Homo sapiens: one gene and its partner. The protein of the gene in region 2 interacts with the protein of the main gene of each other region in a pairwise test. Each region holds a gene or a part of one and is shown on either strand. Other genes may lie near its edges.

Evidence for each region. The genes of interacting proteins can lie anywhere in the genome.
Region 1: the proteins of TTC23 (region 2) and INSC interact in binary tests that used the Homo sapiens proteins (3 or more experiments, as listed by UniProt).

Annotation. Positions count from the first base shown.
Region 1 is NC_000011.10:15,243,058-15,248,567, forward strand, and holds the end of INSC (protein inscuteable homolog), read left to right. Parts: exon of another isoform or gene 1-683; intron 684-2,854; coding exon 2,855-2,983; 3' UTR 2,984-4,151; downstream 4,152-5,510. UniProt on the Homo sapiens protein: May function as an adapter linking the Par3 complex to the GPSM1/GPSM2 complex. Involved in spindle orientation during mitosis. May regulate cell proliferation and differentiation in the developing nervous system.
Region 2 is NC_000015.10:99,237,858-99,246,581, reverse strand, and holds part of TTC23 (tetratricopeptide repeat protein 23), read left to right. Parts: intron 1-1,071; 5' UTR 1,072-1,193; intron 1,194-5,022; 5' UTR 5,023-5,217; intron 5,218-8,724. UniProt on the Homo sapiens protein: Participates positively in the ciliary Hedgehog (Hh) signaling.

The sequences.
Region 1 (5,510 bases), on a different chromosome or scaffold from region 2:
GCATTTTGTATATCCATGGGACCTTGAGTTTGGTGACTATGTATTAATTGATTTGGGGACTGACAGACTTGCTTCCTCTTTTCCTAGCTCCCAGTCTTGGGGGTGTCCATGGTTTGTCCCTAGGAGTGTTCCAACATTTGAGTGTGGTCTCCTGGTTGGTGAGATTCACTTGGAGCCTAGCCTGGCAGATGGAGTTAGAAGCCACCATTCCTGCTCTTCCCCAAGGCGTTTCCCAGCTTCAAAGGCTCCCTTCAGGTAGAGGGAGGAAGTTTCACTTATTGTCTCCCCTGTCTGGGAAAGTGGCAGTGCAGATCATCTCTCCCAAAAAGAATGGATTTTTCCTGAATGAAGCAGCTGTCAGTAGGTTGCCAGGCTTGTTTAATGCTTGGGTGTTTTCAGGCTGTCTGGGAATGAGATTCTAGGATGACTAGCTGTTTAACCCTCCCAGAGAAGCAGAGGCTGAGAGAAGGGTTGGCAAGGGTGCAGGGTCCTTTGAGGCTGCTGCACACTGAGGAGGGGGTGCTCTGAGCTACTGTAGGGTTCATGTCCTGTAGACTTTCTGGGGGCCCTGGGGAGGTAAGGGTGTCTCTTCTCTCTCTGCCGCTCTCTGTTGTGTTTTGGTTTCTGCTTTGCTCTCTTTCTAGGGTTTGCCTTCTCTCTTAGCAGTTTCTCTTTCTTCTTTCCCTTCTTCCCCTCTTTTTATCACCATAACTCCTTTCTCTCCTTCTCTACTCCTTCCTTTTTCTCTCTGCCTCCTTACCTCACCCTACCTCTCTCCTATTATCTCCCCTCCCCCTAAGGGCTCTCTCTTTTATTTTCTTTGCCACTATTTCTTTTTTTTTTTTCCTCCATCTCTTTTTTATACTTGGTCTTTTTTCTTCACCAAGTTCATCTCTGTCTGTTTTAATATTTCCTTCTTGTTCTTTTTTCTCTGTTGTCTCTTTTTCTCTGTTTCTTGGCTATTTCCCTTTTCTGTCTTATTTGCTCTCTTGATAGGTCTATGTTCTATTTCGCTCTGTCTCCTTGTCTCCCTTCTTGCTTTATTTTTATCCCTAATGATGCAAAAATGCATTGGTGGCCTTGTTTCCTCATCTTCAGAAAATCCCTGGTTCTGTTTTCATGGTGACAACTCAGGGAAAATGGGGTTATCTTTCCCAGTTGGAGCCAAGAAGAATCAGAAAGTGCTGTGAAGTTTACCCTTGTTAGTCTATGGGGTAAACCACGCCCCATGAGAGTCGAGATGTGTGTGTTAGAGGCAGTTCTGGGGAGTCTACTTCCTGTTGCTAGGGTCACAGACCCTGCTCATTAATGCACAGAGACACACGCTCCTTCTCTTTGACCTGGCCTGGACATGACAGCACCTGTGACTCCCAGCAACCAGCTCAAACTATCCTCTCTTTTCACTTTGTTGGCCTGATTTCTCAGCAACAGGCTACCTGCCATGTCCAGGTAATGAGTGGTACCCCTGCCTTGTGCTCAATATAACCTTGTATCCTGGGGTTGCAGCATCCTACCTGTGTGCATAGGTCTGAGTGCCCTGGAGTCAGACTCCTGTGTGATGTCTGGAAGGCCACTTTCCCCCTCTGAGCCCTAGTTTCCTTATTTCCAAAAGGGAGATCATGACACTTAGCTTGCAGCATCATGTAGGGATTAAGTGAGGTGCTATGGGGAGATTCTCAGTGTTTGCATTCCCTCCTTCTTTGCTTCTTTTGCCATTCTAGATATTCCCCCACTCTTTTTGCTTCCAGGGGTGGGAGAGGAGGGGCACCTTGTTCCCTGCTGTGTATATGCTCAGGAAGAGGGAAGAAATTAATATTTATCAAGCACTTAGCATGCATTGTCTCAGTTAACTGGTAAACAGGTCTAGGTAGGTGCACAGCTCACATTTAGTTTCAGGTTGCTCTATCAGCAGATCTCAATATTAAAGCACTTCGTTTATTCATTTCTTTTCAGCCAACATTTATTGAGCCCTGTGCCAACCTCTGTGTTGTCTGCTATAGATACAGAGAAATAGAAAACAAGATCCTTACTCTCGAGGAGCTCAGAGTCTAGTGTGGGAGATAAATACCTAAAAGCTAGTTATGGCCAAGTGTGAGAAGCTTGAGGTCAGCCCAGGGGCCCTGGTTGCACAGGGGAGGGAGGGATGGACTGTCTCTGCTTCAGGATAATTGGGGAAGCCTTCATGGGGGAGGTGACAATAGGCAGGAGCAGGAAGTCACTTCAAGTCACAAGTAAGAGTATGAGCAAGGAGGAGGGGGTATAGCTCAGAGGTAGAGCATTGGGCTGAAGATTAAGAATATGAGCAAGGACACATGGACACAAAATAGAAATAGCATACTCATTGCTCATTGTGTGGGGAGCTGGGGAGTGATTTTATTCTGCCAGCACCTCTCTTTCCTGTTCATCCCCCTTGCCAGGTGTTGAATTTCTCAGTAGCAGAATCCCTGTCTACTTTTACAATATGTTCTCCCTCTCTTTTCCTCTTTTTTCCATAGTGCTTTCTATAGCACCTTGCTGAATTTATGGATGAATGAATAGTTCTTGCTGTTCTAAGGTTACTCTAGGGATCTGGAAATAATAAAGACCATTATTAAGATTATTAACAGCTTTCAGATGACATCTATCTTAGTGATCAAGGTGCAAATAAAGCTAGCTGACCAAGAGATGTGGTTGCTATGTTGACCAGGTGACCAAGATGGTGACTGAGATGCCAAGTGGCTAACATGATGATCAACCCAAATTGTCTGGTAAATGCACCACTTTCTGAAATGCACATTTCAGGGTAGGTGAAGGAAATACATGTACCTGACATGGCCCAGTCTGACACGTGTCACCTCTTCTGTCTTCTCCCCAGGCTGCTCTGCGTAGATTGGCTGGGGTCTGCCCTGAAGGCCTCCAGGACTCTGACTTTCAGCAGTTGGTCCAGCCTCGGCTGGTGGACTCCTTCTTACTCTGCAGCAACATGGAGGAGAGTTTTGTGTAGTGAGTGTGGGCGAAGAAATACATTTGGCTGTTCTCACACCCCCTCTGACTATGCACCAGTGAACACATCTGAGTACATACCAGCTCTCCTCATCTTCTTATTTATACTTAACTTATTTTTGTGTGAAATAAATGGAGGACAAAATCTTAGAGCAACATCATCAAACAGTCTTTGGTCCTTGAGAATCTTCTTTGTGTTTTATTTTTTGATTTCTGTAGCTTTTCAGTTGCAGATGTTGAAATTCGTAATGACAAATATGACAAATTGTCATGGGTGATTCCACTTCATCTTATTTTTTCTACTCTCACTATACAATCTTGCCTCATTTTTTAAAACTTTGGAACCAGAGGATTTCAACTGCCTAGCAAGTTTTTTTTTTAAGTTGGATTTGCTCTTCCCAAAAATCTAAAATGAATTTAATAATTGGGTAGAATATATTGGAAAGAAGTTTCTTTTTCTTTAATAAATGGAATCATATAAAATGTATCCCGGATTTTCTTATTAAATTGTATTTTAAACTAGGTTCTTGCTTCCCAGGTTTCATTCCCCAAAAACTTTTCCAACCATTAAAAGTACACACAGAATTGTCTTGTTTTCATAGGTGTATAAATAGGTTAAGTTCTGAGTGACTTAGTGAGAAACCAAAGTGACTTTCAAAAATACACCCAAAGGCACCAGAAACCCTGCTTCCTTTGGCTTCTTTGCTTTTGTGTAACCTCCTGTTCACCTCCTGGTGAATAGAATCCTCAGATGAGGCTTATTGAATGATTGATTCCTCCTCAAAAGTATACTTGAAAGCAGTGGTGTGCTGAAGCCAGCTCATGCCCACTCACAAGGGACAACTGTGAGAATTTCTTCCTAACTCTGCACTCAGTGACCTTGCGTTGGTAGCCATGAGCTACTTCATGAGCCCTCATGTTGAAATTGGCCATAGTGGGAGTATTTACACCACAGAAATTCACAGATGCTATAAAGCACAGCTTTCGCTTTTTTTTTTTTTAGAGAGAGCTGGTTTACCAATTTCACTGCTTGAAAGTATCACAAAAATCTGGGGATCCTTTTGAAAATATAAATGCCATCATATTGTGATATAATTTATACAATATAATATAATTGTGTAAAATCATGATTATAATAATGTTTCAATAAACATTTCTTAAATTCCCAATTACTAGTTTACATGAGTTAACCTAATGAACCAAGTCCTGGGCTAAGCATCTAATTTGCATTATCCAATTTATTCCTCACAATAATCACATGAGTATTAATTAGTATATTCATATATGTTATTACATATGATCAGGTTATTAAATTACTTGCACAAGGTCAGTAGCTAGTAAGTGGTGCTAGGATTTGATTCTGGCAATAGCTATTACCAAAGCCTTTGTGCTGAAGTCATATGCTATATACAAAGGTAATGTCTAGGTCCTCCCACCTAATGTGATGATGATTATTATTATTACGATAGAAAACACTTGTGCAACATTAACCAGGTGCCATGGACTTGTTTTATATTATTCTCAGTATAGATATTAACATTTACTACTACATACCCATTTTACAGAGAAGAAACAGAGGAAACTCATTTTACAGATACAACAATGGAGCTGAAGTAGCAAGAAAATGGCAGACCTTGGATTCAAACCAAGGTCTTCTGAGTCCTTATACAAAGCTTCCATTTTTAGAAATAAGGTATATATATATATATATATATATTTCACTGAGTTGTGCAGATTGTTCAGATATTGGCAACTTTCATTATATGATATCAACAGACAACTTTTGTTAATATCATTATGATCTCATCTGAAAAGTTTTTAAATATTGGGAAACTATCAAGCTTGAAAGCATAAATTTTGTCATTGGCAACAAATACTGTCAGCTGTTTCCCTTGAAGAGACGGACTCGCTTTGTTCATTTTTGAGAAAATATCTGCCAAACTCCTCAGTCTCAATAACCACAGTTTGTCAATTGTTCTTTCAAGTAAAGGTAGTGTTCCACAGAAAAAGCAACTAGTTGATACTGCAATTGAAACAATCACATAAGTGCCTTTCTCTTGAAACTGACACGCATTCTGCTTTGGCATACAGTAGAAGTGCCTGAAATGCAGTTCTCATATCACTCAGAATAGTTAAAATGGCATGTACCAGGGGTCAGAATTTAATACACTTAATAATTTTTACTGCTTCATCAAGGATATTCCTAAGTGGAATTGGCATTTTAAAAATTTAAGTGTGTGGCAGTGAAGAATACAATAACTGTAAGTACAATTTGGTGCCACTGCCTTGATCATATTAAGGTGCAATTTTACTTACCATTGCTTTTGCACCATTAGTGCAAATGTCAATAAGTGGAGAAAGGTAAATAACTTCTTAGTATTTTTATAAAAATAGTTTCGACCTCACAGAGCTCCTGAATGTGTCTTAGGACTCCCCAGAGATCAGGGGCCCTACTTTGAGAATCACTGATCTAGTTTAATACTAATTTTATGGTGAGGAAACTGAGGCCGGTGTTGAGGGGAAGCAAA
Region 2 (8,724 bases):
GTACAGTGGCTCGATCTCAGCTCACTGCAACCTCTGCCTCCTAGGTTCAAGCGATTCTCCTGCCTCAGCCTCCTGAGTAGCTGGGATTACAGGTGCCCACTACTATGCCCAGCTAATTTTTTGTATTTTTAGTAGAGACAGGGTTTCACCATGTTGGCCAGGCTGGTCTTGAACTCTTGACCTCGTGATTTGCCCACCTCGGCCTCCCAAAGTGCTGGGATTACAGGCGTGAGCCACCACGCCCAGCCCCATGTTACTGATTTTTAATTGTTCTTTATATATTGTGGTTAAAGTCCTTTATCAGATTAATGATTTACAAATATTGTCTCCCATTCTGTGGGTTGTCTTTTAACTTTAATAATAGTGTCTTTTGAAGCAGTAAAGATTTGGATTTGATGAAATCTAATTTATCTTTTTTTTTCTTTTATCACTTATGCTTTTGGTGTTATATCTCAGAAGTCTTTGCCTAACAGGCTGGGCCCTGTGACTCACACCTGTAATCCCAGTATTTTGGGAGGCCAAGTCGGGTGGATCACCTCAGGTCAGGAGCTCGAGAACAGCCTGGCCAACAGGGTGAAACCCCGTCTCTACTAAAATTAGCTGGGCGTGGTGGTAGGCACCTGTAATCCCAGCTGCTTGGGAGGCTGAGTCAGGGAGGCTGAGTCAGGAGAATGTCTTGAACCTGGGAGGTGGAGGTTGCAGTGAGCCGAGATCACGCCACTGCACTCCAGCGAGAGTCTGTCTCAAAAAAAAAAAAAAAAGTTCATGAAGATTTACTCCTATATTTGCAAAGAGTTTTATAGTTTTACCTCTTACTGTTAAGTCTTTACTCCATTTGGAGTTAATTTTTGTATATGGTGTGAGGTGTAGAGATCCAACTTTATTCTTTTCATGTATCTATCCAGTTGTACCAGCACTGTTTATTGTTTATTGAAAAGACTGTTCTCTTCCCATTGAATTATCTTGGCATGCTTGTTAAAAAAAATAATTCACATATATAAGAGTTTATTTTTGGACTCTCAACACTATCCCATTTTTCTATATATTAATTCTTTTTTTTTTTTTTTTGAGATGGAGTCTCGCTCTGTCACCCAGGCTGGAGTATAGTGGTGTGATCTTGGCTCACTGCAACCTCTGCCTCCCAGGTTCAAGCGATTCTCCTGCCTCAGCCTCTCGAGTAGCTGGAATTACAGGTACTTATCACCAAATCTGGCTAAATTTTTTGTATTTCTAGTAGAGACAGCGTTTTGCCATGTTGGCCAGTCTGGTCTCGAACTCCCGACCTCAAGTGATCCGCCCACCTCGGCCTCCCAAAGTGCTGGGATTACAGGCATGAGCCACCACGCCCGGCCTCTATATGTCATTTCTTATGCCAGTACCACCACGTTGTTTTGGGGAGGGCTTTTCCCCAGCTTTATTGAAATATGATTGACAAACTAAAAATTATATACATTTGAGGTAAACATCATGGTGTTTTGATATAAGTGTACCTTTTGTAATGATTCCCACAATAGAGCTAGCTCACACATTCATCACTTGACATAATTACCATTTTTGTGTGTGTGATGAGAACATCTGAGATCTTAACAAATTTCAATTATTTTCTATAGTTACCATGCTGTATATCTCTAGAACTTATTTACCTCATAACTGAAAATTTTTAAGTACAACACTTTTGATTACTTTTACTTTAGTTTTATAGTACATTTTAAAAATGGGAAGTGTGAGTCCTCCAACTTCTTTTTTAAGATTGTTTTATTTATTCTTAGTCTCGTATTTCCATCTTAATTCATCCATAATAAGGATCAACTTGTTAATTTCTGCAAAAAAACAGCTGAGTTTTGATGGATATTACATTAAATCGATACATCAATTTGAGGAGTATTCTATCTTAATATTGAGGCTTTTAATCTATGAACATGGAATGTCCATGTATTTAGATCTTTAATTTCTTTCGATAATGTATGATTTTCATTGTACAAGTCTTGTATTTCTTTTGTTAAATTTATTCCTACATATTTATTCTCTTTATCCTATTTTGAATCAGTGTTTTCTTAATTTTATTTTCAGATTATTTATTGCTGACATATAAAAATACAATTTTATTTATTTATTATGTATCCTATGGCCTTGCCGAACTTATTTAGTCGTTCTAATTGGGGGGGGCGATTTATTTGTTTATTTATTGTGGAATCCTTAGGATTTTCTACATAGAGGGTTATGTCAGCTGATAATAATGTTTTATTTCTCCCTTTCTAATCTTCATGCCTTAATTTATTGTTCTTGCCTGTTGCTCTGACTGTAATATCCACAACTTTGACTACAGGTGGTGAGAGAAATCATTCTTGCCTTGTTTCCAATCTTGGAAAACATTCAAACATGCTCCATTAAGTATGATATTAGCTTTAGGTTTTTGTAAATCAGGATTTTTTGGTTTTGTTTTTTAATTTTTAATTTTTGTGAGTACATAGTAGTAGGTGTATATATTTATGAGATACATGTGATGCTTTGACACAGGCATACAATGTATAGTAATCACATCAGAGTAAGTGGGTATCTGTGTCCTCAAGCACTTATCATTTCTTTGTGTTAGAATTATTCCAATTCTACTCTTTTAGTTATTTTAAAATATACAATAACTTATTGTTGACTGTAGTCACCCTGTTGTGATATCAAGTACTAGATCTTATTCATTCTATCTAACTACGTTTTGTACCCATTAACTATCCCCACTTTTCCCTCCCTGCCCAATACCCTTCCCAGCTTCTGGTAATCATCATTCTACTCTCTGTGTTCATGAGTTCAGTTGTTTTAATTTTTAGCTCTCATAAATGAGTGAGAACATACAAAATTTGTCTCTCTCTGCCTGGTTAATTTCTCTTAGTATAATATCCTTCAGTTTCATCCATGTTGCTGTAAATGACAGGATTTCGTTCTGTTTTGTGTGTATATCTACCACATTTTTTTATCCATTCATGTGTTGATGAACATTTAGGCTGATTCCAAATCTTGGCTGTTGTGGATAGAGCTGCAGTACACATGGGAGTGCAGATATCTCTGATATACTTTTCTTTTGGATATATATGGAGCAGTGGGACTGCTGGATCATATGGTAGTTCTTCTATTTTTAGCTTTTTGAGGAACTTCCATACTGTTCTCCACAGTGGCTGTAATAACTTGCATTCCCACCAACAGTGTATGAGTGTCCCCCTTTGTCCACATCCTCACCAGCATCTGTTACTGCCTTTTTAATAAAAGCCATCTTAACTGGGGTGAGATGACCTCATTGTAGTTTGATTTGCCTTTCTGTGCTGATCAGTGATGTTGAGTATTTTTTCATATACTTGTTGGTTATTTGCATGTCTTTTGAGAAATGTCTATTCAGATCTTTTGCTCACTTTTTAATCAGATTATTAGATTTTTTTTCCTATTGGGTTTTGTTTAAGCTCCTTATATATTCTGGTTATTAATCCCTTGTCAGATGGGTAGTTTACAAATATTTTCTCCCATTCTGTGGGTTGTCTCTTCACTTTGTTGATTGTTTCCTTTGCTATACAGCAGCTTTTTTACTTGATGTGATCCCATTTGTCCATTTTTGTTTTGGTTGCCTGTACTTTTGAGATCTTTCTTAAGAATTCTTTCCCCAGACCACTGTCCCAGAGAGTTTCCCCAGTGTTTTCTCTTGGTAATTTTATAGTTTCAGGTCTTATATTTAAGTCTTTAATCCACTTTGATTTGTAAAATCAGGCTTTTATCAGCCTTTTATCAGGTTGGGGAAGTTTTTTTAATCATGATTGGATAATGGATTTTGCCAAATGTGTTTTCTGCATCTATCAAGATGATCAGATGGTTTGTGACCACATTCTACTGTATAGTGTATTATATTAATGAGTTCAGATGTTAAACCAACCTTCCATTTCTAGGATAAACTCCCCTTGATCATAATGTATTATCCTTTGTATATGTTGCTAGATTTGGTTTGCCAATATTTTGTTGAGGATTTTTGTGTCCATATTCATGAAGGGTATTCATTTGTTATTTTCTTGTGATGTCTTTGTCTGGCTTTGGTATCAGGGTAATACTGACCTCATAGAACAAGTGAGAGTTTCCTTCTCTATCTTCTGTTAGAGTTTTCAAAATACTCATGTTGTTTCTTCTTTAATGGTTTGGTAGAATACATCACTGATGCCATCTGAGCCTGGGCTTAACCTTGTATAAATATTTTTAATTACTAATTTAATTTTTTTACTTGTTATAGATCTATTCAGATTTTCTATTTTTCTGTTATTTTTTTATCACTATTTTTTTGGTATTTTTTATCTTTTTAGAGTGTTTTTCCAGTGCGTTAGCTTACATATGGGTAAGTTTGCTTCTTAACTAGCGTACACTTTCACTAGTTAAGAAACTAGTCATAATGGCTTCTTTTTTTTAACTTTTTTTTTTTTTTTCTGAGACAGGATCTTGTTCTGTCACCCAGGCTGGAGTGCAGTGGTGTGATCTCAGCTCACTGTAGCCTCCGCCTCCTGGGCTCAAGCAGTCCTCTCCCGTCAGCCTCCCAAGTAGCTGGAGAAGCCGAGCGCCACCACACTCGGCTAATTTTTGCAATTTTAGTGGAGACGGGGTTTTGACATGTTGCCCAGCCTGACCTTGAACTCCTCGGCTCAAGCCATCAACCCATCTCAGCCTCCCACAGTGCTGATATTACAGGCATGAGCCACCGTCCCTGATTGATGAGGTTTTTTATTTCCTAAAAGCCACTGCCCTGAGGGCCCCTGCCCCTTCCTCAGGCTCCCCTACATCTCTCCACAAGTCAGCCTCCAACGGTTCACACCTGGAAAAGCAGGGGACCTTCAGAACTGAGCTCCAGCCTAGTTGGCACCTATATAGATTGGTTGGCCCTCCTGCTATTTCAGTTATTATTTTGAACATCACCACTTGGAAGACTGAGACTCCACTTCAGACCTCTTCTTCCTAACACCCTGATCTGGGGCTGATTATGTGCTTTAACATTCTACTGGGCAGGTCTGGCAGAAGGAACAGTATCAACTGACTGAGTAGGTCTCATTGGCAGTTGTGATTCAGAGACCTAGAAAGCTGAACCCACGGCTGGCAAGAAGAGGATGGTTTGTGGGACCTGGGCTGATGTCTGATGAAATTTTAAGCCCCAGCTATAGCTACTACAAAGAAAAGTGGCTGATGATAAGCATGTAACTCAAAGTAAGTGAACTGAGAAGCATGTTTTTTGTTTGTTTGTTTGTTTGTTTGTTTGAGACAGTTTCGCTCTTGTTGCCCAGGGTGGAGTGCAGTGGCACAATCTCGGCTCACTGCAACCTCTGCCTCCCAGGTTCAAGCGATTCTTGTGCCTCAGCCTCCGAGTCGCTGGGATTACCAGGTGTGTGCCACCACACCTGGCTAATTTTTTGTATTAGTAGAGACAGGGTTTCTCCATGTTGGTCAGGCTGGCCTCGAACTCCCGACCTCAGGTGATCTGCCAGCCTTAGCCTCTCAAAGTGGTGGGATTACAGGCATGAGCCCCCGCGCCCTGCCTGAGAAGTATGTTTTTATGTTGAGGATGTTACTGTGTGATGCCACATACATTGAAACACATACATTTAAAGTAAGGCCACAGACTCAAATGCCTCTAGAAGCCAGACAGGTAGCATACCTCCTCCTTTCATTGATTCAGAGACGTACATTTTTTTTGGCATTTGAACATCTCTGAAATTAGAGTGAACGTTACAATTGCAAGTCAAATGGTGTATAAAAAAGCAGCATCTTTATAGTCAGTGGTGCTTTAGATTAGACGAAATAACAGAAAATGAGTGGTGTTGGCCAGGAAAATTATATCCTTCTCTGTTGGCCTTTCACTTTGAAAGAGAGAAATGGATACAGAGACCTACTTTCCTACAATAAGACACAAGAACAATGACAAATGGGAACGACTTTGCTGCCTTCATGTCCGGTAGCCAATAGGGATTGGTGGCAACAGGCAAACTGGAGAGTACCCTTGCCCCCAGGGCAGCTCCCCCTCTTCCCTAGCTGATTATTGCCTGTGGTGGCATAGATCTAGTGTTGACAAGTGTTCTGAGTTTTCAAAGGAAGTCAGAAACCCCAAAATCTACATCTTCATGTGAAACTCCTAATTTTAAAATGATGGCTCAATTTTTTTTAACTGGCGAAAAAAAATATATATATACAAGTTAGATGAGCCTATGAGTGCTCAGAATAAATATAACCTCTCTTTTAAGGATGCAATATTAAGAGGCAGCATGAGACAAACCAGTTTTTACAATTAAGCCAAAAAAGAAAAGTTAAATCCATTTCGAAGTTTAACACTAGGTTCAGAGGCCCAGAATAACAAATACTGCAGGGCCTCTTACTTATTTCATCTTTAAACTTTCTTTTCTGCCTCCCACTAAATGGAAGATAAGAAAATATAGTTAAATCTATTGAAGATGTTGCATTCCTGTTTATAAAAATGTATGATCACTTTTTAAAATGCAGGCTTAGGTTTCCAAAGCAACAGCATTTGCTTCCCACTGCTGTAGACTGTGGTCAGTGAAAGGCAGGATGATGTCATGGGAAACCCCCAAATTATGAGAAGACCAGGGTGCTAATTCTGGCTGTGTGATGTGCAACTGATTTAGGTTCATTTCATCGTCTTTATTTATAAAATGGGGATGATAATAGCTACCCTCTGTACCTTACATGGTTGTAAGGGCCACATGAGATAAAACATGTGAAAGTATAAAGTGTTATGTATATATTAGTTGGTATTGCCCAAATCACATGGGTAGTTGGGACAGCACAGGTTCTTGAATCTCAGATTCTCCATCTCTGGCTACTGCTCTTTCCCTAGACTGCAGCACCTGTTGAAATGGTCATCTTATCAGCCAGTGGGGTTGAACAGATGAGGAAGCATAAGGCAAGAAGTTATTAGAAAAAAGTTAGCCAACATCTTAGGATCTCAAATAGCACTGTGTCTCTGTACAACAGGGTGTAGGCAAAGCTTTCCTGTTAAATCTGAAGTATTGACCTTTAACGTTTTTATTTATTTATTTTTATTTGTTTATTTTTTATTTATTTTTATTTTTTTTGAGACAGAGTCTCACTCTATCACCCAGGCTGGAGTGCAATGGTGTGGTCTCGGCTCACTGCAACCTCCACCTCCCTGGTTCAAGTGATTCTCCTGCCTCAGCCTCCAGAGTAGCTGGGACTACAGGCACATGCCACCACACTGGGCTAATTTTTGTATTTTTAGTAGAGATGGGTTTTCACTGTGTTGGCCAGGGTGGTCTTGAACTCCTGACCTTGTGATCTGCATGCCTCGACCTCCCACAGTGCTGCTGGGATTACGGGCGTGAGCCACCATGCCCAGCCGACCTTTAACATTTTTAGGAGGTACCCAGGAATGAGAACACCACCTACATTGTAGATCAGCCTCTCTAGCATTCTCACAGTTTGACCTTTGGCTGATTCCTTCTTTCTCTTTTTCATATTTTTGTGCTATATAAGCTTTATGAGGAAATGAGTCAATCAAACTCTTAGCCTGAAATGAATGAATGCCTTCTTAGCCTGAAATCCAGCATTTTACTTTCCCCCTAGCTCAGGGTTTCCCAAACAATGTTTTTAAAGTGCTATTTCCATAAGATTTAATAGGTGCTCAAGAAAAAAGATAATCTCATGGTCAAAAAAAGACTGGAAAAGTGCTGTATACTGTACCCACTCTGGGATATTCACAAGGTATTATATTAAAGTTTTGAGAAGACCTGTTTACCCATTTATTTGATCACAGAATCCTCCTTTTGTGGAACCAATATTTGTGTTTACCAACTCATTTGATCACCTCTGTCAATAACCCTCCTCAATGGCATGTACGTTAATGTCTTGTGGCTCTGGTGTACTGCAGCAATTGGCTTGGAAAATGCTGTTCTATAGCCTCATTTCACATACACCAAATTGAACCACCAGCAGTTAGCCATGCATGTATTTCACTTTCCCACTTCCAAGCCTTTTGTAATTATTCACTCTGCTTGGGATGCTTTCTCTTCTCCCTTCTTGTTGTCTGGAGTCTTTTTAGCCAAACAAGCAAGGTCATTGCAGCAGCAATGATTCCCATTTCTGAAGTCTTAGCACTTGCCACTCTTCTAGCAATTTTAGCACCTAGTACTGTGCTAATGTGTACCTGATCTTTTTTCCTGCTCCATTTTACATTTCTTGGGGTTATTGTTTTCTGCGTAATACATTAGCCTGGTGCATTGTTTGTAGCCAGAATTCAGTAAATAGTTGTGGAATGAATAACTAAATGAGTTGTGGCCAGGTGCAGTGGCTCATGCCTGTAATCCAGCACTTTGGGAGGCCGAGGTGGGCTGATCACTTGAGGTCAGGAGTTCAAGACCAACCTGGCCAACATGGTGAAACCCCATCTCTACTGAAAGAAAAAAAAAAATTAGCCAGGCATGGTGGTGCATGCCTGTAATCCCAGCTCCTTGGGAGGCGGAGGCAGGAGAATCGCTTGAACCTGGAAGGCGGAGGTTGCAGTGAGCCGAGATCGTGCCACTGTACTCCAGCCTGGGTGACAGAGTGAGACTCCGTCTCAAAAAATAATAATAATAAAAAATAAATAAACAAGTTGCAATAGGATGAAATTTAAAATGTTATCTATAGTAGATAATGGAATTGGAGTTTGAAGAGGAGGAATGGGGAGGGATCTCTGAAAGCCTG